Homo sapiens: one gene and its partners. The protein of the gene in region 1 interacts with the protein of each later gene in a pairwise test. Each region holds a gene or a part of one and is shown on either strand. Other genes may lie near its edges.

What was found.
Region 2: the proteins of NAB2 (region 1) and PHOSPHO2 interact in binary tests that used the Homo sapiens proteins (3 or more experiments, as listed by UniProt).
Region 3: the proteins of NAB2 (region 1) and RINT1 interact in binary tests that used the Homo sapiens proteins (3 or more experiments, as listed by UniProt).
Region 4: the proteins of NAB2 (region 1) and DGCR6L interact in binary tests that used the Homo sapiens proteins (3 or more experiments, as listed by UniProt).

What each region holds. Positions count from the first base shown.
Region 1 is NC_000012.12:57,092,094-57,095,992, reverse strand, and holds the end of NAB2 (NGFI-A-binding protein 2), read right to left. Parts: intron 3,546-3,899; coding exon 3,412-3,545; intron 3,077-3,411; coding exon 3,025-3,076; intron 2,931-3,024; coding exon 2,798-2,930; intron 2,587-2,797; coding exon 2,395-2,586; intron 1,382-2,394; coding exon 1,272-1,381; 3' UTR 517-1,271; downstream 1-516. UniProt on the Homo sapiens protein: Acts as a transcriptional repressor for zinc finger transcription factors EGR1 and EGR2. Isoform 2 lacks repression ability.
Region 2 is NC_000002.12:169,689,460-169,697,477, forward strand, and holds the start of PHOSPHO2 (pyridoxal phosphate phosphatase PHOSPHO2), read left to right. Parts: upstream 1-5,009; 5' UTR 5,010-5,163; exon of another isoform or gene 5,164-5,282; intron 5,283-5,755; 5' UTR 5,756-5,788; intron 5,789-7,901; 5' UTR 7,902-8,018. Other genes in the region: CFAP210 (cilia- and flagella- associated protein 210), read right to left, coding at 4,802-4,868. UniProt on the Homo sapiens protein: Phosphatase that has high activity toward pyridoxal 5'-phosphate (PLP).
Region 3 is NC_000007.14:105,563,177-105,568,189, forward strand, and holds the end of RINT1 (RAD50-interacting protein 1), read left to right. Parts: intron 1-556; coding exon 557-771; intron 772-1,947; exon of another isoform or gene 1,948-2,100; coding exon 2,101-2,281; exon of another isoform or gene 2,282-2,353; coding exon 2,354-2,472; intron 2,473-3,146; exon of another isoform or gene 3,147-3,942; coding exon 3,943-4,135; 3' UTR 4,136-4,277; coding exon of another isoform or gene 4,278-4,314; 3' UTR 4,315-4,501; downstream 4,502-5,013. Other genes in the region: EFCAB10 (EF-hand calcium-binding domain-containing protein 10), read right to left, coding at 2,373-2,439, 4,291-4,314. UniProt on the Homo sapiens protein: Involved in regulation of membrane traffic between the Golgi and the endoplasmic reticulum (ER); the function is proposed to depend on its association in the NRZ complex which is believed to play a role in SNARE assembly at the ER.
Region 4 is NC_000022.11:20,317,057-20,324,636, forward strand, and holds the start of DGCR6L (protein DGCR6L), read right to left. Parts: upstream 3,005-7,580; 5' UTR 2,933-3,004; coding exon 2,823-2,932; intron 2,744-2,822; coding exon 2,583-2,743; intron 1-2,582. UniProt on the Homo sapiens protein: May play a role in neural crest cell migration into the third and fourth pharyngeal pouches.

The DNA of each region.
Region 1 (3,899 bases):
AAAGCCCCAAATTCCTGTTAGCCAGGTGGAGGCTTCTGATACGTGTATGAGACTATGCAAAAGTACAAGGGCTGAGATTCTTCGTGTATAGCTGTGTGAACGTGTATGTACCTAGGATATGTTAAATGTATAGCTGGCACCTTAGTTGCATGACCACATAGAACATGTGTCTATCTGCTTTTGCCTACGTGACAACACAAATTTGGGAGGGTGAGACACTGCACAGAAGACAGCAGCAAGTGTGCTGGCCTCTCTGACATATGCTAACCCCCAAATACTCTGAATTTGGAGTCTGACTGTGCCCAAGTGGGTCCAAGTGGCTGTGACATCTACGTATGGCTCCACACCTCCAATGCTGCCTGGGAGCCAGGGTGAGAGTCTGGGTCCAGGCCTGGCCATGTGGCCCTCCAGTGTATGAGAGGGCCCTGCCTGCTGCATCTTTTCTGTTGCCCCATCCACCGCCAGCTTCCCTTCACTCCCCTATCCCATTCTCCCTCTCAAGGCAGGGGTCATAGATCCTAAGCCATAAAATAAATTTTATTCCAAAATAACAAAATAAATAATCTACTGTACACAATCTGAAAAGAAAGACGCTCTAACTGCTCAGATAGGTGCTGCGGTCCAGCCCCCAGCTGGAGGAGACCCTGAGTCCAACCCAGGCCTCCCGAGGGGGCCAGTGAAGGGATCCCACACCCACCGCCCCTATGTAGGGCAGGGAAGAAATTGCAAAGGACTTGGGGGATAGATGGGAATGGGAGGGCAAACTGCAGCACTTGTTAAATTAATTAAAGAAACAAACCAGAAGCACAAAAACGGGGAAGGAGAGGGGAGAAGGAGCAGGTCCAGTGTTCCCAGGCCCCCAATTCTGGGGGCAAATGTTGCCACTTTTAGCTGGACCTTCCCAGGGAAGTCCCCCTTTCCCCCTTGTCCAAACTGAGTCCAACTGCTCACACCACTGGTGCAAACCTAAAGAGAATGGGAGTGTGTTGTGTGAGGGAGGGGAAAACCCCAGATGCCCTGGAGGCAGAGTCCTTGCCCCCTCGCTCTGGGCAGGGGTGAGGGCACCACGCACCCTCCTTGTGTCCTCTCTCCAGGCCTCTGCTTGTTATTGCTTGAAGCCCCACAGTCTTATGCCCATGGAGCAGGTGGGGAGGCAGGAGAAGGGCAGAGGAAGGATCCAGGGTTGTGACTAGATTCCGGGGATGGAGAGCGTGGGGGTCTGTGTGAGCCAGAAGTCTGAGGTCCTGGGTCTGAAGACACCAGTCCAACCCTCACTGCCGGCTGGCCTCAGCCTCCACTTTCACGCTGCTCCTGCGACCCTCCACCAGCGCGGGATGGGGTCCTGGGGCAGGACATCTGTCCAGCAGCCCTTCCTCGAACTCTGCAGGGAAAAGGGGGCAGTTAGGAGACTGCAGGGTGACTGGCTGCAGACAGAGGTGGTTGGGAACAGAAGCAGGGGCAAAGAAAGCTGTGAAGATGGGCTCAGTTTAGGTTTATTGAATTACTGCCTCCTGCCCACTGCATGTGTATGGGGGGTTCCATTCCCATGTGTGTGAGCCCCCTCCCCTCCCTGGCTGTGCGTAGCTCTGTCTCTGTCTGTCTCTCTCTCTTTCTCTCCCGCCTCCTCGGTTGCGCTGGAATTTCTGGTTCTGTCAGGAGCTGCGGGGGTGGTTTGGCTCTGACCTCTCCCCTCCCCCCTTCCCAAGCTCTGCCACCCCCACTCATCCCTGGCCCCCTCCCAGGCCCCTCCCAGGCCACTCTACCATGGCCCCCCAAGTTTTTTGGTAGCCAAATCAGAGGGAGAACAGGAAGCCAGCCTCCGAGCTCCTCCCTCAAGAAGAGCCCCCCTTCCAGTCCCCGCCCCCACTTCCCACCCACGCACAGTTTAAAAATACCAAGCCAGGGTTGGTGGCTTTGTCTGCTGCGTCACTCTCAGCCCAGCGGCTGCCCGGCCCTCCGCCTGCCCACTCCCTCTTCCCCCTTCCACACACAAAGCATCACTGCTTTGGGCTCCTCTGCTTCCAAGCTGGGCATCCCCATCCCCATACCCACAACTCCTAGCCTGCTCCCCACTCCTGGGTTGGTGGAAGTGCCATCTGAGCTTCCCTTATTGATGCTCCTCCTTCCTGCTCCTTCATCCTCTTTTCTCTGTCCCCCCATTCCCCAGTTCCCCTTTCACAGATCTACACTAGGACCAGACTTTCCATGGTGGGAGCAGCTCGGCAGGGTCTGCCTCTCTGCACCCCAAGGCCTGGCTGGCTGGAGCCCAGCCATCCTACTGCCCTCTCTGACGACTATATCCCTCTTCCTCCCACCTGGCCCCAGGACACCAGAATTGCTGTGTGGGGCCTGAGTGGCCGGGGTGCTTGGGGACAGCACTGCTGGCTGCCTCACCTGCGAGAGGTGGCTTCGCAGGCACACAGGGGCTGAGGCGGCCCACGCGGTCGTGGGAGACGAGGCGGGCGAGCCGCAGCCCCTCGTCCATCAGTGTCTGCTGCAGGATGTGTCGGCTCCATAGCCCATGGGCTGGCAATGCCAGAGGCAGGTCAGCAGGGGGCGGCGTCAGCCTTGGACATGACCCCACAGCTGTGGGCATGGGCACTGGTCAGGTAAGGGGCTGCAGCCAATGGAACCCCCACCCTCAACCACATAGCCAGCCCACAGGCCCTTCTGCCCCCCCTCCAGCCAGGTCTCCCAACCCTGTTTCAGGCACTGCCTCCTGGCTCACTCCTCCCCCAACCCCCTCCCCTACTCCCCCACCCTCAATGAAGAGAAAAGTGTTCTGAGGCACACTCACCCTGCAAATGTCCATCCAGACTCTCCCCAGACAGGCTGGCGCTGTCCTCCTCCAGGCTGGGGCGGTATGGGGGTACATAGGACTCAGGGCCTGGGGGAGGCTGCTGGATTTCAGGGTGACTCTGTTCTCCAACCTGTGGATGCCCAACATGGGGAAATGAAGACCTGCCAAGGGAGGGGATTGGGGAAGGCTGCCCAGTGCCCCTATATGCACCCCGGAAAACATACCTCTTGTTTCAGCTTCTTCAGTGGAGGGCCTCCCAGTTCTTCAGGGTGAAGCCTGAAAAGATGGGTAAGAATAAAGTGGATGAGGCTGACGAGGGCCACTCGACTGGCAGAGCACAGAACCCAGCCAGAGGCATGTGTTATTTAAAACCTTTGCCAAGAAGCTGGCCGAGAAAGAGTCTCTAGTTCAAGCACTATTGTTGTAGGGGGTTGGGGGGACCCGACATGGATGGGAGGAGAGACCAGACCTGAGACAAGCTGACTTGGCCAAAAGCAGGACATCCAGGTGGGCGGGAAGCAGGCCTAGAGCTGCCTGAGCTGAAGGTTAGGACATGATCTAACTCCATAGCAGGATTCCAGTCCAGGAAGGACCTGGGGAAGGGGTCTCACCTGGAGCCCTTCAAGGAGGACAAGTAGGTGCTCTCTCGGGCTACTTGGCGGGACAAAGAGAAGAGCTCCACTCTCCGTAATAAGAGCGTGTTGTCCCTCATGCAGAACTGGGCAGCAGCCTCGTTGATGGTGAGCTGTGGAGGGAGGGCAGCCAGGAGAGTCAGAATTCGAACTTCCCCGCTGCCTCACCAGACCTCCTCACACCCCTTCACCATTGGACAAATGAGGCCCATCCATCAGACGCTTGCTTTGGTTTTGACACTACATGGGAGCTTTCTGAGGTGGGAAGACAGAGGTCAGCACCCACAGCTTCCTAGGAATGCCCGGGGCCTCCTCCTCTCCTGTGGGGTCCTGAGTGACAAGGAGCTGAACAGCTCGGTGCTGCCTGTATCTCTGCTTCCCCCTCAGCTGAGGATGGAAGCACTGCGGCCGCTGGGGTAGGGGCCTGTTGGGGAGGGGATCAGGGCCTGGGGTCCTGGTCAAGAGAT
Region 2 (8,018 bases), on another chromosome or scaffold:
AACTGATCATCTTTCAATGCCACTAAACTTTATTAGATCTTATAAATGTTTAGTACATTCTTTAGGATTTTTAATATAGAATATCATGTCATCTGTGAATATAGAAAGTTTTATTTCTTCCTTTCCAATCTGGATGGCCTTTTGTTTTGCTTGCCTAAATGCCATGGCTAGAATTTCCAGTATGATGTTAAACAGAAGTGACGAAAGCAGGCATACTTTTCTTTTCCTGATCAGGGTTTCAGTCTATCACCATTAACTATGATGTTAGCTATGGGCTTTTCATAGGTCTCCTTCATCAGGTTAAGAAAATTCCCTTCTATTCCCAGTTTGTTGTTTTTATCATAAATGGATGTTAGATTTGTCAAATGTTTTTTCTATTAGGATAATCATGTAGTTTTGTTCCTTATTCTATTTACACAGTGTACTACATTAATTGTTTTTAAACCAACCTTGCATTCTTGGGATAAATACCACTTGGTCATGGTATATAATAATTTTTTATATGTTGTTGGATTTGGTTTGCTAGTATTTTATTTAATTAATTAACTTATTTTTTGAGATGGGGTCTTACTATGTTGCCCAGGCTGGAGCGCAGTGGCTATTTACAAGTGTGACCATAGCACATTACAGCCTCAAATTCCTGGCCTCAAGTGGTCCTCCCACTTCAGCCTCCCAAGTAGCTGGGAGGTGTGTGCCACATCTAGCTCATGTGCTAAAACTATGTTGAAGATTTTTGCATCTCTATTCATAAAGGATAATGATCTATAGTTTTCTTGTGATATCTTTGTCTGATGTTGGTATCAGGGTAATACTGCCCTTATAGAATGAGCTGGAAAGTGCTCCTTCCTCTTATTTTTTAAAAAGTTTTTGAAGGATTTATGTTAATATTTCATTAAAAATTTAGTAGAATTAGCCAATGAAGCCATCTGGTACCCAGTTTTTCTTTGTGAGAATTTTTTCAATTAATAATTGAAGGTGGGATCACCTGAGGTCAGGAGTTTGAGACACGCCTGGCCAACATGGCGAAACCCCATCTCTACTAAAAGTACAAAAATTAACCAGGTGTGGTGGCGGGTGCCTGTAATCCCAGCTACTCAGGAGGCTGAGGCAGGAGAATCACTTGAACCTGGGAGGCAGAGGTTGCAGTGAGCCGAGATCATGCCACTGCACTCCAGCCTGGGTGACAAGAGCAAGACTCTGTCTCAAAAAAAAAAAAAAAAGAATTCTTGAAGACTTTTTCTTTCAGTAATTTGAATATATTAGCCTGCTGCCCCTGGACTCCATAATTTCTTATAAGAAATTTGTTGTTAATCTTATTGAGGATTACTTTTATGTAATGTCATTTCTCTTTTGTGCTTTCAAGATTTTCTCTGTCTTTAGCTTTCAACAGTTTGATCATGATGTGTACAGCTGTTGATCTCTTTGAGTTGAGTTTACCATACTTAGAGGATCACTGAGCCTTTTGATTGTGTGATGTTTTTCATCAAATTTGGAAAGCTTTTGGCCATTAATTCTTCAAATTTTTCTACCCCTTTCTCTGCTCTTTTTCTTCCAGAACTCGAGTTACATTTATGTTGGCATATTTGCTGGTGCCCTACATTTCTCTGAAGATCTGCTCATTTTTCTTCATTCTTTTATCTTTTTTTCTTTCTCATTATTCTGAGACTGAATAATCTCAATTGACTTATCTTCAAGTTCACTGATTATGTCTTCTGCAAGTTCAAATCAGCTATTGATCCCTCTAGTTAATTTTTTAATTCAGTTATTGTGCTTTTCAACTCCAACATTTCTGTTCAGTTCCTTTTTATAATTTTTTTAAATATTCATTGATATCCTCTATTTGGTAAGACAACATTCTTAATACTTTTCTATAGTTCTTTAGACTTTTGTTTTAGTTCTTTAAATATATTTACAATAGCTATAAATTTACAAAAGTTTGTATCTAGTAAATCCAACATCTGGGCTTACAACAACTGCAACTGCACAGTTTTAGGTCAGTTGGGGGGGCAGTCTCTGATTTCCTATCTTTTGTCCACCCCTACTTCTGTAGACATCCTCCCCGCCACTTCCACTCCCCCTTTCCCTCTTCCACCCATTCAACTGAGCACAAAATGGCCAGACTTCCACAGAGCCAAAAGATGATTATTGAGGATGCTTTCAACTTGGTGGAGTCCATTTCAAAGACACTTTCTATTGAAACCTTTTTCTTGTGTTTGGGTCATACTTTATTTCTTTTCATCTTTCATAATTTTTATTAAAAACTGTACATATATGTGTCAACTCTGGAAATCAGATTTCTACATACACCCAAAGTTTCTCATTCCTGCTGTTGTTGTTTGTTTCAGGACTTCTCTGAACCAATTCTGTAGTCTGTATTCTTTGTCACATGTGGCCACTGGAGTCACTGCAGTCTCTGGTTTGCTTAGTGGTCAGCTAATAACTAGACAGACATATCTTTGGATGACTGGAACTAACAAGTCTCCCAGTCTTTGCCAAAGGACTGTCTATGAGTATTAAGGCATGCCTTCAATGCTCGGGCAGGCAATTTACAACTCCATCTTAGCCTCTACTTCTTTCTTAAACAGAGTCTCAAGGTAAGTCATAGGTGAGAGGCATTTGCAGGTCTTTCCTGGGCATATACATAGCTCTATGCATGCACTTGGCCTTCTAGATTCCCAGGAATATGTCAGGAGCTTTCCAAAGCCCCCTATGGACATATCACTTCCCAACTGATCCTTTTAAGATTTTCGGTCAGCTTGTTGTTTGCCTCCCAACTGTATCACTGCCTGCCTGTTTCATGCTGTTATAACAGAATACCTGAGACTCGGTAATTCATAAGGAATAGAAATTTATTGGCTTATGGTTCTGGAGGCTGAGAAAGCTAGTATCGAGGTGCCAGCATCTGGCAGGGGCCTTCTTGCCGCATCATAACATGATGGAAGGCATTACATGGCAAAAGGGCAAAGAGAGGGCAACAGGCGCACGCACACACACACACACACACACACACACACACACACACCACACAGAGACAGAGAGAGAGAGAGAGAAAGAAGAGGGCCAACTTTCCCACTTTTATAATGAACCCATTCCCCAGATAATGGCATTAATCCCTTTACTCTGCCCTCATGGCCTATCACCTCTCATTAGTCCCTACCTTCCAACATTTTTACATTGGGGATTAAGTTCCCACACATGCCTCTGATAGCTGTGATATTTAAAATTGCCACTGAACATTTGACAAACATACTTGGTGAGTTTGAAGTCAGACTAAATAACAATAAGCCTCATGAGTGAGATTTTCCAAGGAACTATCAAACATGTCGAATAATAACAGTTGTCTGGCTTTGGAGTGGGTCAAATTCTGTTTTGTCCCCTCTACCAGTTGCTAAGTCACTATTTTTCACTGTGATTACTGTGGTTATCTAGGCTGACACGGGGCTGGGAGAAAAGTATAGGACTATGGCAAGTTAAAATGCCAAAAACCTTGCTGTTGTTACAAAAATCCAGCTGTTTTTCTTTAGTAAACACTCTACAAATTGTTGCAAGCCTTTGGTTAATTTCCAGAGTTCTGAAAAAGTCGATATTGATGATTTTTGCCACTGTTCTTGTTGATTTTATGGAGGAGAGGATTTCAGGCATAGATCCTATTTCACCATTCTGGCTGATGTCATCCCACTAAATCTTTATAAATTATTTATTTTACTAATAGCTGCACACATCTCTGAACCTCTCTCCAACTTAGCCTTCCCCTAAAAATGGAGATTAAAATTTAGCAGTGAGGCTCAGGTGGAAGCTTTTGAGCTAGTTGCCACAAAACATTATTTAACAACTATTAGGTAAATCTAAACCAGGTAGTGCAGAAATGCATATGCAGGAAAGTGAATGTGTGGGACTAATTGTGCTTTTCCAAAACTGGCCATGTTGGTACTGTTTCTTTCCTTTTACATGGCAAAAGTCCGCTGCTAACCTCATAAAACCTCCACTGCATAAATATCCACTAGTGAAGAATGACTGGCTGTCACTCTGCATCTGGTGCAGGGGGCACTATTGCTACAGAAGCTCGGGCAATGACATGAAGATACTTCAAATTGCCAAAGTTCTAGTTGTCACCATGACAACATTAATTGCTAATTTACAGACGTAAGAAACTGTTGTAGCTAGAATTGATAGAGTTCTTTAGAAGTCTATTTCTATTCCAAAATCAAATTGTTATAACAGGTCACCTGAATTACAGTACTTTATGTCACACGATTTTTTTTTAACTCTCTAAAAGCATTTGACTTAGAGAGAGACCTTATATTTACTTTAGAGAGGAGGAAATGGAGATATTTCCTTCAGAGACTTTTAGTAAAGACCAATCAGCAGGTTTGCAGAAGAGCCAAGCCTCTAAAGAGGTGACTTATATTTCCAAGAGATATTCCAATTCAATCAGTGAATAACAAACTTTAAGCGTGCGGGAAATTTAACAAAACCCAGACTCTCAGAGCTGCAACTGCGCAGTTTTAGGTCAGCTGGGGCTGGGGGTGGGGGTCTCTGATTTCCTATCTTTTCTCCACCCCTATTTCTGTAAACATTCTCCCACCCACTTCCACTCCCCGTTTCCCTCCTTCACCCATTCACCTGAGGGCAAGACGGCCTAACTTCACACAGAGCCCAAAGATGCTTATTGAGGATGCTTTCGACCTGGTGGAGTCCATTTCAAAAGGCAACTGAAGCCCTCATTCGGCATCCTCGCCTCTCACTCCATGCCGGGGGTCCAGAAACAATCCCTGTCCCTGGATAGGTCAGTTTAGCTCACCTGTACTTTCCTTCGCCCGTCCACAGCGCCGTCCAAACCGTACCAGCATCTCTGACGAGGTGTCCATGATGCTCCTAGATCTGGAAAAGTGACTGTGGCGCCAAGCGCCGCGGACGCCAGCCGGTGGAGTTGTTACTCGTACCACGCGGTTGCTTGGCAACGCCGCCGGAAGTGACGCCAGCCGTAGCCGAGGAACAAGGGAGGTGCTGCAGTTGGCGGTCGGGCTAGAGAAGAGAGGCGCCTGCGCTTGCGAGCTGGGCTTGTGAGTGGGGCTGCCGAGAGGGCAGGCGTGGGGCGAGGCCAAAGGACTGAACCCGCAGGAGCGTCACGGGCGCCGGGGCGGCTGCCGACGGCGGGACTGGGTCAGTGAGAAGCCCGTGGGCCCCCGCCCTGCCTGCTACTCCCATCCCCACCTGCGCGCTCCCCATGGGGGACGACCCCCGATTGGGTCCGATGCCTACCCTCGGGGTGGAGCCGGCAGGTGTGTGAGCGCGCGAGGCCTAGGCGTGGTGTGTGCGTCCGCAGATCTCCTCGCGGGTGGAGTGTGAGGAGCAAAGCCCTCCCTTAACTATAAAAACCCGCGGATTCGCTGACATAAACGCTGTTTTTTTAATCCTTTGGTTTCTGAGGCATGGTCAGGACTAGATGGGGCCAAGTTTTTTAAAAATAGGAATGTTAAAACGTAATGATATGCTTAGAATATTTACGTTAGGACCTTTGAGATATTTTAAATTTCTTGGTAAATACATGACCACAGAAATCTGTTAGGAGTAGCTGCGCGTTTGGTTTCAAAAGATGCTTTTCTAACACATTGATGTACAGATAACTTCATTACTAACAAGTTGGCTCTGACGTGTACACATAATGCACCAAATTGGAGTCTCTCAAAATGAAAGAACAAAAAGATTTTTAATAACGAATGTTCTAACACATAGTCGTGCTATTTTTCTTTAGGTTTTCTATCAGATGTTCCACGTAATAATGCTGGTAAGTATGGAATAATTAAGAAAATATTTGAAGACAGAAATTAGTTTGTGCACATACAGCGCTGGTAGGTTTTTGGAACTATACCTTAAAAAGTGTCAAGAACTGGGGGCCAGGCGCGGTGGCTCACGCCTGTAATCCCAGCACTTTGGGAGGCCGAGGCGGGCGGATCACGAGGTCAGGAGATCGAGACCATCCTGGCTAACACGGTGAAACCCTGTCTCTAGCAAAAATACAAAAAAATTAGCCAGGCGTGGTGGCGGGCGCCTGTAGTTCCAGGTACTCTGGAGGCTGAGGCAGGAGAATGGCGTGAACCTGGGAGGCGGAGCTTGCAGTGAGCCGACCATCGTGCCACTGCACTCCAGCCTGGGCGACAGAGCGAGACTCCGTCTCAAAAAAAAAAAAAGTTTCAAGAACTGGGAAGGAACAGAGATTTTTACCCTGTTTGCAGGCTAACTTAGCCTGGCAGTTTCATGGAAGACACAAGACTATTCATTTCAGGAATGAATTACTCCCAGCAGTAGCCAGTAAATCAGCAATTTCGCCTGAGTTCCCTAAAGCCCCAGTTCCCACAGGATAATGCAAAGTGGGCAAGAAGTCACCTAGATGTAGTGTGTGTCGAATTACAGGAAAGGAGCCCTGAGCTTAGGGAACCCAGATCTTTATCATTTGGACAAATAAGCATGTTTCTCAAGGCTGTCCAGTGTACAAACATCCTTGAGACAATAGTCTAGAGGAAAGGGCAGTCAGTAAGACATGCAGAACCACCAGAGACGCAGGGAAAATTGTCTCCCAACAACAATTTTCTGGAATTTTAACAAAATTGGTTACAAAAGTATTGAATCTCATGATTTGATGTCAGTTACTTGCCAATTTGACATGGTGGTCAGATATAATTTGACTTCAGACTCGAGATTCCAGCTCCAACCTGTGGATTGTCACAACCAAGTCAATCTAGAGTTATTTGTCCTATACCCACCACTCTTTTATTTCTTTGTTGTGAATTTAATAAGGTAGCATATGCACTCTGATCTGAAACAGAGTTTAAATTATTCTGAGAAGAAAAAAATTTTATTACAAAATTGATGTAGAAAAAGTGTGAACTACGGTTGAACCAACCATAACCATCCCACTGCACATGTAAACATTTTCTAAAACAAAAACAGGATTATACTGTACACACTATTTTGTGACTTGCTTATTTAATTTGAACTGAATATCTTGGCTTTTACTGGCTGGATATTCTGTTATTTGCTATCACATGCATATCTTACTTAATTATTTCCCAATTCTTGGATGTCTGTGTAGTTTTTAATTTTCATTATTGTGTAAAGTATGCAGGATATTGTTACACTATGGAAACATTGCAGACATACCAAATAGACATAGATTGTGCTTTTGAAGAGAACAGTTAACTTTTTGGAATTTTAACAAATTGGTTTCAAAACAGATTCACATTCTTAAAACTAAATCTTTGTTCATATTCTTAATTTTTGGAGACATTTTAATTTCTAGTACAGCACTAAATGTCTATTGACAACAGAATGTGGAACTCCTCTATTATTAAACAAGTACAAAGAAAAAATGGACTCTGAAAATCTCAATCAGCTTAACACTGATTTTATCCACTGGACAAAAACTTATTTTCACATAACATTTCTTATTTTCGACACCAAGTCGATACCAAGTGGAAAGCAAAACTTTGTTCTCCTATTGCCAAAAGATGCTTTTCTGACATTAGAAAAACAACATAATTAGAAAATACAAAAAAAAAAATTTTTTTTTTTTTGACACGGAGTCTCGCTCTGTTGCCCAGGCTAGAGTGCAGTGGCGCGATCTCGGCTCACTGCAAGCTCCGCCTCCCAGGTTCATACCATTCTCCTGCCTCAGTCTCCCAAGTAGCTAGGACTACAGGTGCCCGCCACCACGCCCAGCTAATTTTTTGTATTTTTAGTAGAGATGGGGTTTCACTGTGTTAGCCAGGATGGTCTCCATTTCCTGACCTCGTGATCCCCCGCCTCGGCCTTCCAAAGTGCTGGGATTACAGGCGTGAGCCACTGCGCCCGGCCTGAAAATACAAATGTTAAAGCTTTTAAAATACTTTTATTAATTTTAGGAGTTAAGAAGTTTCCATTATTTTGCTCCAAACCAGAAGACTCTGTTCCCTGTATATAGAATAGGAGTAATATTTGAAAACAACTGGCTGATGTTTAAAACTGAAGATTGTCATGAT
Region 3 (5,013 bases), on another chromosome or scaffold:
TTTCATTTATATGAAATGTCCAGAACAGGCAAATCCATTGAGACAGAAAGTCAATTAGTGGTTGCCTATGAGTTGAGGGAGTGGGGAGACGGTATTAGAGGATAACGGCTTTTTTCTTGGTGATGAAAATGTTCTAAAATTGTGATGGATATACAACTGAATATATAAAAAAATCATTGAATTATACACTATTATTAGTTTTGAGATGGAGTCTCACTTTGTCGCCCAGGCTGGAGTGCAGAGGCATGATCTCGGCTCACTGCAACTTCCACCTTCCAGGTTCAAGCTAGGATTACAGGCACATGCCACCACACCCGGCTTATTTTTGTATTTTTAGTAGAGTTGGAGTTTCACCATGTTGGCCAGGATGGTTTCGAACTCCTGACCTCAGGTGATCCACCCACCTCAGCCTCCCAAAGTGCTGGGATTACAGGCATGAGCCACCGTGCCCGGTCGAATTATACACTTTAAATGGGTGAATTGTATGACATATGAATTCTATTTCAAACTGTTAAAAAAAAAGTATGCTAATGTGTTAACATGTTTTTGCTTTCAGTTCTTTCTACAACTTCAACAGGCTGCACTGGAGGTGTTTGCAGAGAATAATACTCTGAGTAAATTGCAGCTAGGACAGCTAGCCTCTATGGAGAGCTCTGTCTTTGATGACATGATTAACCTCTTAGAACGTTTAAAGCATGATATGTTGACCCGTCAAGTAGACCACGTTTTTAGAGAAGTTAAAGATGCTGCAAAATTGTATAAAAAAGAAAGGTATGTCCTCTATGTAAGTCAGCTCTTAACACCAGTTTGGTAAAAGTTAAAGAATATGTGGTCAGATTTTCAAGGTGTCTAGATAGAACCCGGTTTGGCCTTATGTACTTTATTGTTGATGGAAATATTTCTAAAGTATGTTCTCTTGGACATTTTTTTTGAGACAGTCCTACTCTGTCACCCAGGCTGGAGTGCAGTTGCACGATCTTGGCTCATTGCAACCTCTGCCTTAGAGGTTCAAGTGACCTTCCCACCTCAGCCTCCCAAGTAGCCAGGACTACAGGCATGCACCACCACACAAGGCTAATTTTTGTATTTTTAGTAGAGATGTGGTTTCACATTTTGGGCAGGCTGATCTCCAACTCCTGACCTCAGGCAAGCCACCTGCCTCGGCCTCCCAAAGTGCTAGGATTACAGGTGTGAGCCACCACACCTGGCTGACATTCTTAATCAGAATAAACTGATTATAATTTAGTTGTTTGTAAATATATCAATAGGATAGTGTGTGATCTGGGGTTGAATAGCCTAACCTGTCTCCCATTTTGCAAAGTAAAGTGCACCTGTGGTACTCTGCATACTTTTGTTGTGGTTTATCCCACTACCATTCACTGTGAACACCTGTGTTACTTTCATCCTTGATAGCAAGCAGTATCTTTTTGTCCTAGCATAGTCCCTGCCACACAGAGTGCTTAAAATTCGTTTATTAGTCCTGTTTTTACTAAAAATTAGAGGATAATATTAGCTGATGTCTTAATTAAAATGCTAAAATCAGGCTGGGTGCAGTGGCTCACACCTGTAATCCCAGCACTTTGGGAGGCCAAGGCGGGCAGATTACTTGAGGGCAGCAATTCGAAACTAGCCTGGCCAACATGGCGAAACCCTGTCTCTACTAAAAAATTCAAAGATTAGCTGGGCGTGGTGGTGGGCACCTGTAATCCCAGCTACTTGGGAGGCTGACACGAGAATTGCTTGAACCCTGTGGCTCTAGCCTGGCCAACAGAGCGAGACTCTGTCTCAAAAAAAAAGAAAAACTACATAAATAAAATGCAAAAATTAAGTGACATTTTAAATTGTAATTGCCTTATATCAGTAATTCACATATTAAAATTTGGGGATATTTTGGATATATCCCCATATTAAAGAGTATTTGAGAGTGAAAATATAAATACAGGTACATTTATTTTCTGATAGAGCTTTTAATGTTAGGCTGTATATTTTTTCTTATCCAAAATGCCCTAGGACAGAACACTTCCTCAAATTTAAAATGATTTAAAAACTTGAAAAATAGAAACTGATGAAAATTTTTTGGTAAAAATGTGTTTTTTCCAGATGGTTGTCCTTGCCATCTCAGTCAGAGCAGGCAGTGATGTCCCTGTCCAGTTCGGCTTGCCCGTTGCTGCTGACGTTACGAGACCATTTACTTCAGTTGGAGCAGCAGCTTTGTTTCTCCTTATTTAAAATTTTCTGGCAAATGCTTGTAGAGAAGCTGGATGTATACATCTACCAAGAAGTAAGTAAGAATAGACTGTTTTTGGGCTGTGATAATAAAGACAACTGTTATATGAATTATTCTTTGTTTCAGATAATTCTTGCTAATCACTTCAATGAAGGAGGAGCAGCCCAGCTGCAGTTTGATATGACTCGGAATCTTTTCCCTTTGTTTTCTCACTATTGCAAGAGACCAGAAAATTATTTTAAACAGTAAGCTCAACATTTAACAATTAATATTAATGTATCAAATTGTTACAGGAGGCTAACTCCTTTTAACTTTAGGGTTCTGGAGATGTTTGGGTGGGATAAGATCAGTTGAAATTTTAAAACATTGTCTATCTACTGTATGCTTACAGCACAATGGGGAAACCAAGATGATAGATGTGACCCATGACCTCAAAAAGTTTCAGAACTAGATATAAATTACCTGTTGGGTTTTGTTTTCTAGTATTTGGTTTAATGCTTCTAGTTGCTTAGTTACTGGAGGAATAAATAGAAAATGAAAACAAGTACAGTTGTGCCCTATTCACTAAATATAAGAAATTACAGGGCCGGGCGTGGTGGCTCACGCCTGTAATCCCAACACTTCGGGAGGCTGAGTTGGGCAGATCACAAAGTCAGGAGATCGAGACCATCCTGGCTAACATAGTGATACCCCCATCTCTACTAAAAATACCAAAAAAAAAAAAATTAGCCAGGCCTGGTGGCGGGCACCTGTAGTCCCACCTGCTTGGGAGGCTGAGGCAGGAGAATGATGTGAACCCGGGAGGCGGAGCTTGCAGTGAGCCAAGACTGTCTCAAAAAAAAAAAAAAATTACAAATATGTTTAATACCTAATAGGCCAGGCCTGAAAGAAATTTGTTTCCTTAAACATTTGACATTAATTTTGGTTCTAAATATAATTATAGTTTCAGAATTTGTTGATCTAAAATTTATAGGCCAGGCATAGTAGCCCACATCTGTAATCCCAGTACTTTGGGAGGCAGAGGTGGGAGAATTGCTTGAGGCCAGCTGTTTGAGACCAGCCTGGGCAACATAGCAAGACTCCATCTCTACAGAAAGTATTAAAATGAACAAACAAAAAAAAGCCAGGTGTGGGGGTGTGGACCTGTAGTCCTAGCTACTTGAGAGGCTGAGGCTGTAGTGAGCTATGATCGTGCAGTTTCACTCCAGCCTAGGTGACAGAGCAAGACCATGTCTCAAAAAAAAAAAGTAAAATTTAAATTATGTTTGGGTTTTGTGAGGTTATAAAGCATTCCTTTTAGACTTATAAAATGAAAGCTTATGTTTACACGTTTCATAGGACTGTTTTTAAAATTTATTTTAATGTTCTTTCTGCTGCTTTCATTTATCTCTTATTTTTGTCTTTTCCCATGTTCTAATCTACCTAAAGTTATAGCTATATTTAATATAGTGTTAATATTAAGTATTGTATTTAGGGAAATAACGGATACATATTGAAATAGGGATCGTATTACCTTATAGTAATCTAAAGAAATAGCAACTCTGCACCTGTGTAGTCTTACCATGTTAAAAGAACCAAATAATAAATCCATAAATATTTTTATAGAGAACATGTGGACCAGCAGTGCAGAGAAGCTGTTTAGGATTCTCAAAATTGTAATATAATTGATGCAGATAATGGAGATCTCATTTCCCTCCTTTGTTTTCCCTAAACAGTATAAAAGAAGCCTGTATTGTTTTGAATTTGAACGTCGGTTCTGCACTACTGCTGAAAGATGTACTGCAGTCAGCTTCAGGGCAGCTTCCTGCCACAGCAGCATTAAATGAAGTTGGAATTTACAAACTGGCTCAACAAGATGTTGAGATTCTACTTAATTTGAGGACAAATTGGCCTAATACTGGAAAATAATGTCTTTCAGAAAAAGGTTTCTTTGGTTTTTGTTTCTAAGAAAGAGGAAGCCAATTGGATTTCAAGTTATATGATGAAATTCTGAATTAATGAAACTGGAAAACTTTATAGAATTACTTATTATCTTGGATTTATGGTGTTATTAAAATGCTGACCATATTTCCTTCATCCTCTTGTTCCTAAGGAAACAAAAACAGAAAACGAAACAATGAAAACTCAATTCTATTTACAAGTATAAATGCTGAGTATGTCTGTTGAAGACGAGCAGAGATATTAAATTATAACCAACTTTCAATTTCCTGTGCTAATTAAGGGAAATTCTGTTGTGGATAATCAAACATAGCCAATAAATTTTTTTAAAACTCCCTTTGAATGCATATTTGTAATTGAGGCACCTGTATCTAGTTTGGGAATTAACTGTATTTCCATGAGGAAACTGGCAGGGCACAGTGTCTCATGCCTGTAATCCCAGCACTTTGGGAGGCTGAGGTAGGAGGATTGCTTGAGGCAGGAGTGCGAAAACATCCTGGCCAACATGTCAAGACCCTGATGCATGCCTGTAGTTCTAGCTACTTGGGAGGCTGAGGTGGGAGGCTAGCTTGAGCCCAGGAGGTCAAGACTACAGTGAGCTCTGATTGTGACACGGCACAGCAGCCTGGGCAAGCGAACAAGACCCTGTCTCTAAAGAACAAAACAAAACACATTGTGAGATGGTGAATAAGATAGGATTGTTCTTCATTTCTCACAAATGCCCTTCTATTTTAAATGCTTCCTAGTTTCATTCTGTGTGACAGTGGGCAACCCTTTCTTTCTGGATGAAACATTTCAGGCCATGGCACTCTGACTCAAACATTCCCATGTGGTAGGGAATGTAATTA
Region 4 (7,580 bases), on another chromosome or scaffold:
CAAAAGAAAAGGTGAAACCCAACACTCTGTTCCTGGGAAGAGCCCTGATGTTGCAGCTCTTCTCTGGTGGCCAGTCCCCAGGGAACTCCAGGGCCCCTGAGGCTCCCCTGCAGGTAGCCTGGCTCCCGCTGTGCCTACAGCCTTCCCCGATCTCCTGTCTCTTCACATTCTGTACACACCTCGACGATGGTATTTACCAAAAGCCCCCCTCAAGACAGCTCCATAACACAGGGAAGCAGGGAAATGTCATCTCCTTCACTCTACTGATCAAACATTGCTACAAGTGCCAGGTCCACTACCAGATTCCACTAGATAGACAACCAAAAGGCAAGAAGAGAGCCACGCTGGCTGCCTGGGCAGAAGGGGCCTGGCCTTAGACATGACCAGGGAACACAAAGGAGGCAGGAGCAGCCAGTCGCCCCTGCCAAATCAGCAGGAGAAGCAGAAAGTCAATGCAGGCATGCCTGCTGCTGGTGGAACCAGGGCCTGGCCCAAACCTTCTGAAGCACAAACAGCATTGGGCCCAGGCAGTTACTAAAACTCCCCATCCTGCTATAAGGAACTATAGCTCTGTGGAAAAATGGCCGATTCCAGGACTGAGACACGGAGAAAACAAGAAAAGATGAGCCTGAACACATACCTGAACCAGAAAGCAAGAAAGTGCTCACAGAATGATGGGGCGGCATCTAAAGGTGCCTGGAGCGCCCCCAACTGGCCACACATGGCACAGTCTGGGCATTAAGGAATAATGAGCCATGCGCTTGGGATTAGTAAACTACATACATCTTACAGCTCAATAAAAAATTTTAAAAAGACAATCGCCCAGACATTTAGGGGAAGAAGTAATGCCAATTCTACACAAACTCTTCTGGAAAACTGAAGAGGAGAGAACACTTCGAAACTCATCCTATAAGGCTGGCAAAAACCCTGATACCCAAACCAGATATTACATGAAAACTATAGACCACAGTTTATCATGAACATAGACCAAAAAATTCTTAAGATTTTAGCAAATCAAATCCAGCATACATAAAAAGGATACTACAGCACGACCCAGTAGGATGGAATTCAAGTGACTGTAATTCACTGTAGTAATAGAAAATGATTCACCACGTGATCATCTCAAGAGCTGCCGAAAAGGGAACTGCCAAAATCCAACATCCATTCTTGATAAAAACACACCAATCCTGGAGCAGATGGACACTGCCTGCCTTCTGGGGAAGGGGGCCTTGCACTGCTAGGAGAAATTTTTGCCACATTAAACCTGCTTCTAATCAGGCTTCTACCAGCAGTCCAGTGTACAGGAAACCCAGAGAGTGGAGAAGCAGGTTAAATGCAAGAGGAAGCATTTCGTCTGATAGATCAAGAGCAGGGCATTCTATAAAATTAGAATGCCCTGGACTCTACAAAAAAGTCAATGCCACAATAAATGTTGGGGACTGTTTCAGAAGCAAAGAGACCAAAGTAACCAATTGTAGTACATGAACTTGGACTGGATCCTTACTTATAAAGCAACAATTTGCCACAAGTTAGGTACCATGATGTGGCCGTGCACTGAAAGTCAGGAGACACCCGGAACAGTTAATTTCTCAGGGGGCTACCTTCTGCAGCTGTGTAGGAGACCAGTTTTGTTCTAGAGCACTTGCTCCCAATCCAAGGCCAAGGTTGACCCCACCACCCAGGTTGTCTGGAGGCATTCTTGGTTTTCAGGACTAGGGAGGGTACCCCTGCCATCCTGCAATGCGCAAGACAGCATCTCACCAAAAAGACTTACCCAGCCACAAATGTCAGCATGGCTGGGTTGAAAATCCTGGTCTCCAGGAATGCTGAAGACTCTTGGTGAATGCTATGCTGTCACATGTATATATTTTGGGATGTCAAGAACTAGAGCAAAACGTTAACTATTGAACTTTAGTGAAGAGCACAAGCGTATGCACTATACTATCTTTTCAGCTTTTCTAAATGTTTTAACTTCTAAAATAAGAAGTTTGGGAAAAATAACAAAGGTGGAAACTGATGGTGCAGGGGGACCTGCCCTATATAATTTGCAGGAAAGGGCTCCCAAGCCCACCAAGCAGGCCTGGCTCAAGTGGGAAGCTCTTCGGGTTTGGGAGGGCGCCACAGGAGACAGTGCTTAGGAATTTGATGTGCAACTGGAATGAGGCCCTGCGAGGCCTGAGAGGGAACTGACCCTGAAAGACGCTTGCTGCACAACTGTCAACAGACTTCCAACTACTGAGGGGCAATGCTGCTGCAGTCAGCGCCACCACCAGAGTCTGCCTGCAGGCCAATCAGGCACCGAGGCCTAGGGCCATCCTGTCTGGAAGCGCGTGGGGCACAGGGAAGCCCGAACAGGGAGTTTCTGCTAAGAAGGTGGGTGCTGCGCAACTGAAAACAAAACTGGTTGGACCCACTGATCACCAAAAAGGCGCTGTCTCAGTCTCTGCGCCCGTTGATTTTGTCAATCTTAGAGACCTCTTCCGAACACTTCCAAGGAAGGAGCTGATCTGCACAGATACCAAGAGCTGCCCGGAGGCGCCGACCCGGAGGAGGCGGCACCTCATCCCGCTGCCCCCGCGCACCTCGGTGCTCGTTCTGTAGGCGCAGGCGCTGGTTGTACAGGCTCTTTTCGGTGAGGTGCTGGATCTCCAGTAGCCCCTGCACGATTTCGAACACGGTGCCGTCGAGAAGCGCCAGGGCCAGGTCGCTGAGCGTGGTGTAGGACAGGCGCTGCTGGAAAGAGCTGCGGGTAGGGGGGCGCGGTGAGCCCCGGCGGGAAACGAAGCCGCCTCCGCAGGCCTCCGCCCGCCCCGCCTGCGTACCTGGGCAACTCCTTCACCAGGCTCTGTAGCGCCGACAGCAACTGGTAGTGTCGCTCCTGCTGCCGGGCACCGTCCGCCACCTCCTCCAAGGCGGCCGCGTAGCGCTCCATGGCGCGGACGCCCGCTAGCCGCCGGCGGCGGCGACGAGCTCCCCCAGCTTCACGACATCCCGAGCGCGGCGCGTCCCGCCCCTTTTACGATTGTCCCACGCGCGGCGCGCTCCGCCCCCTTTTACGACAGTCCCGAGAGGGCCTGGCCGCCTGCCCCGCCCTGCCCCGCGCCCCGCCGCCTGCTTATTCAGGAGGCGCGCCCCGCTCCTCTGCGGAGACTCCAAGGAGGGTTTTGCTCAGCCCAGGCTCGCACCTGCCTGCTCCCCGCGCGACATTAAAGGCGAGACTCCGCCGTCTGGATATCGCAGGACCACGGAGAATCCCACCGGCCCTTGCTGAGTCATTGCGGGCCGAGGTCCGGGCTCCGCGCCGGCGCGCCTGCGAGGTGGACTGTCCCGGTCACCGGCCTCCCCAGAGGCAGGGGTCTCGGGCCAGAGCCCACAGGACCTGGGTCTAAGGCACCATCCGCGGCCGAGCAGTGGCGCTGGGGTCTGTCTGCGTCCTCCCCGCCCCCGGGGTGAGACAGACAGGACCGCCCTAGAGCCTCTGGGTCAGGACAGTCGGAGCCAGAGTCCCCATCTGGGCCTCCGTGGCCCCCAGCCCGTGAGCCCAGACTGCGCTCTCCCCGCTCCACAGGCCAGCTGCTGGGCCGGGGCTGGGGGGCTTCTGGTGGCTGGGGCTGAACCGTCTAGGAACAGGCTTTAATAGGAGGGGCTCGGGTGGAGGAATGGCTCCTGCAAAGGCCCTGCCAGAGTCAGGTCAGGTGGGTGGGCGAGAGGACCAGTGTGGCCAGGCTGCGGAAGCCAGCACAGGAGACAAGGGCGGGTGCTGTGCATTACAGAGGCTGCTGGGGGCTTGTCCATAGAGCAGCAGGGGGCACGGAAGGGCTTGGGGACGCAGACACGATCAGACTTGCATTTCATCAGGCACTCTTTAGCTGCCTGCTGGGTGGCTGGGCTGTGTGAGATGACCCTGCTTTGACCAGGTTAGGAATTATGACTGGTTTCCAGAGAGAACATTGGTTAGTAATTGGCTATGGGGAAGAGGGGGCGTTGAGCCAACCAACTGGGGTCCCCCTGAAGTGCCAGCAAAGTGTCTGGTTTTCTCCAGGATCTGTTTCCTCAGTCCCTGGCAGGATTGGCTCCCCTGCACGCCATGTCCTTGTGGTCCCTTCCAGACAGAAACCAGGCATGAATAAAGTGAATAATGACAAGCGCTCAGGCCACTGCCGTGGAGGGCGGTCCACAACCCAGAGCTGGTCATGCGCCGGGCACCCTGGCCTCCAGGTCCCTCAGAATGGCAGGAGCTGGAGGTGGGACTCGAGATTGTGGGAGCTGAGTCTGTAGTGAGTGACCAGGAGCCAGCTGGGGCTGGGCTTGGTCACTGTCACCTCCCCCGGAGGTGGTGAGTGGGATGATTAGCTGGGTGAAGACGCCTGCCTGTTTCACCAGTGTCCCTGCCCTCAGTCCCCCAGTCCATGAAGAGTGTCTGTGTGGAGACTGGGAGGATATAGGGCAGCCCCACGTGATGATATGTCTGTGGCCAGCTGGGCAACACTGTCGCCAGCTCCGGGGTCTGCCAGGTGGGGTGGGGGCTGTGAGCCACAGCAGGAGCAGGCCAGGCCTGGGTTTGGACACCTGCTCCTCTGCCTTGTCCGGGTGCTGATGCAGGAAGGCCCCTTCTCCAACCCTTGGTGCAACGTCTGACCTGAACCAGCTTCCCCAGCCCAGCAACACTGCTCCCCTAATGTGGATGTCAACCTAAAGAAACAAACTGAACCACAGTTCATATAGAGAGTTTGTCTGGGCCAAGGCTGAGAGAGCTGCCCAGGACACACCAAGTTGCCCTGGGAGTGCTTCATTCAGCCTTATTACAAGCAAGTTTTTAAAGACTGAAGGGGACAAGGAGTGGGCTGATATGAAGTCAGCAGGAATTCTGACTGCTTTCCAGAGAGAACCCTTAGTGACTGGCTATAAGGTGTTGGACTACTGGGTAAGAGTTATGGTGTCCAGCGTATGGCTTTTTATGCCTACTTGGTGTCAGTCTGGAACCCACAGAGCAATTGGCTTCAAGAGGTCGTTAGCTCAAGTAGGAGTGGGATGTGACTGCTGTTTCATTCCAGTGCCTCTCTGGGCCAGATAATTAAAGGGAGCTCACATTCCTCAGATAAAAAAGTTCCTTTCGCATTAGGAGAAATACGTAATGTAGATGATAGGTTCATGGGCACAGCAAACCACCATGGCACGTGTATACCTATGTAACAAACCTGCACGTTCTGCACATGTACCCCAGAACTTAAAAGAATATATATATGAATATATATATATACTTTATACATATATATATAAACTTCCATTGTGCGCGCGCGCACACACACACACACACACACACACACACAAAGTTCCTTTTCTTTTTCATGGACATGAGCAGTATGTCACTCAGGCATGGGGACTCCTGGGCCACCTCTGGGTCTTCAGGGAGGGCCTGGTCTGGAAGGAGGGGTCTCATCCTCCAGAGCCCCAGGGATGGGTGATATATGTGTAGGAATGGGGGAGCTGGTTCGCAGACGTGCGTTTCCCCTGTGTGTGTGGACACGATGGGCCCCATGGCTCTTCCCGTCGGGTGGTATCCACCGAAGGCCTTTGCTCTGCGGCCACTGTCCACCTCCACTTGGCCTCCCGAGTCCACCAGGCTGGCTGGTGACACCTTGGGTTAGTGTGGGGTGACTGGTGTGTGTTGGGGAGCTGCAGGTCCCCTGTCTCTGACACAGCTGTGTCTGGGCAAACACCAAGGTTTGAAGGAGTGGGTGCCTGTGTGTGTGTGTGTGTGTGTGTGTGTGTGTGTGCGCGCACGTGTGTCAAAAGGCTTTGCTGCATGCCTTTTGTGTGGCTCTTTGTCACATGTGCCTTTCTGTGTTTCTCTGTGAGTTTTCATGTGTCAGGTTGTATGTCTGTTGTGTGGGCGGAGAAACAGCTCTGCTGTGGGGCCCTGAGCCATTGCAGGATCCCCATAGGCCATGCAGAGGTGCACACAGCACCTGACCTAAGCCTGCTCCTCCCAGAACATCAGGCTGCACCCAGGCCACCGCTCACTCCGTCTGTCTCCCGAGACTGTTCCTCACTTCCTGCCTCACTGGCCCTGGTGAGGGTGAGGCTCCCTGCCCCCGGCCCTCAAAACAGAGCTGCAGATGAGGACGCCACCCAGCTGCAGTGTCAAGGGGCTCCTCCACAGTGGGTGTCCCGCAACGCATGCTCTCTGACCCCTTTTGTTTCAGTGTTGTCCTTTTTAGTGTGTGGCACCAGGACAGCAGGGAGCTGCCACCTCAGGCTTCTCTTATTTTCACTCTGTGAGTAATAAGGTCTGAATGAGAGGGGCTCATTGTGTCTTTACTGTCAAATCAGTCAGGCCTTGGCCTTGGCATGTCTTGCGTGTGCTTGACAAATGTATTGCTCATGGGGTCTGGTGGAGGCACAGCACCCTTTTAGAAGACAGGGTCTGTGCGGACCAGTTACGGGTGACATTTCCTAGGCACAGCTCTTGCCTAAGTGGTGTGGGATGGGAGGAGGGCGGGGCTTCCCACTGTCCCACCAGCAAAATGGGCTGTGTGGCCAGCTCCTCAGGACCCGAGAGCATTTGCTCCAGGTTGATAAAATGTTGCGGTGTTGGGTGGCAAGAGTAGGATTGAAACCAGCCACCCAGTTGGTGCTTTGTTACCATCAGAAGTGTTTGCTGAGTCAAAGCAAATGGCCACTCAAAACTGAGTGGGCTGAGTGTGGTGACTCACACCTGTAATCCCAGCACTTTGGGAGGCCAAGATGGGCAGATGGCTTGAGGCCAGGAGTTCAAGACCAGCCTGGGCAACAGGGTGAGAGCCTGTCTCTACAAAAAGTTTAAAAAATTCGCTGGCATAGTGGCATGTGCCTGAAGTCCCAGCTACTTGCCACTTGGGAGACTGAGGTGGGATCACTTGAGCCCAGGAGGTCCAGGCTGCAGTGAGCTGAGATCACACCACTGTACTGCAGCCTGGGCAACAGAACAAGAATCAAATAATAAATAAGTAAGTAAGTGAGTAAATCCATCCATCCACCCCAGAGTGAGTCAGCTGGGGCTGCTGCATTGCTCCTCCCTCACCCACAGGATTCCCTGGTTCCAGCCAGGAGACGATGGTCAACAGCCACTGCTGTAGTGGTGCCTAGTTAAAACTCTTTGGTTTCTGTCTCTGTAAAAAAAAGTGTCTAATTGCATTTGGGCAAAAAACTTGCAGTGAAGAGAGAAAAAGAGATGAAAGCAACCTGTGAGGGAGGCTCGGGTTGACGTGCGGCATGTGCTGTTTGAGTGTGATGAGTGTGTCGGTTTGCACTGTAGATGCTCAGGAAGTGAGGATATGTGGAGTGCTGACTGTATACATGATGCCTCCACTGGCTGGCTGAGTAGAGTTTCATGAAACAATGTTGGTGGACTCAGCCCTGAATCCCTCAGGCATTCAGAGAGCAACCTCTGTCTTTTTTTTTTTTTTTTTTTTTTTTGAGATGGAGGCTCGCTCTGTTGCCCAGGCTGGAGTGCAGTGGTGCAATCTCGGCTCGCTGCAACCTCTGCCTTCCGGGTTCAAATGTCCTGGCTTTAATTTCACAGATTCTTTCTTCTGTTT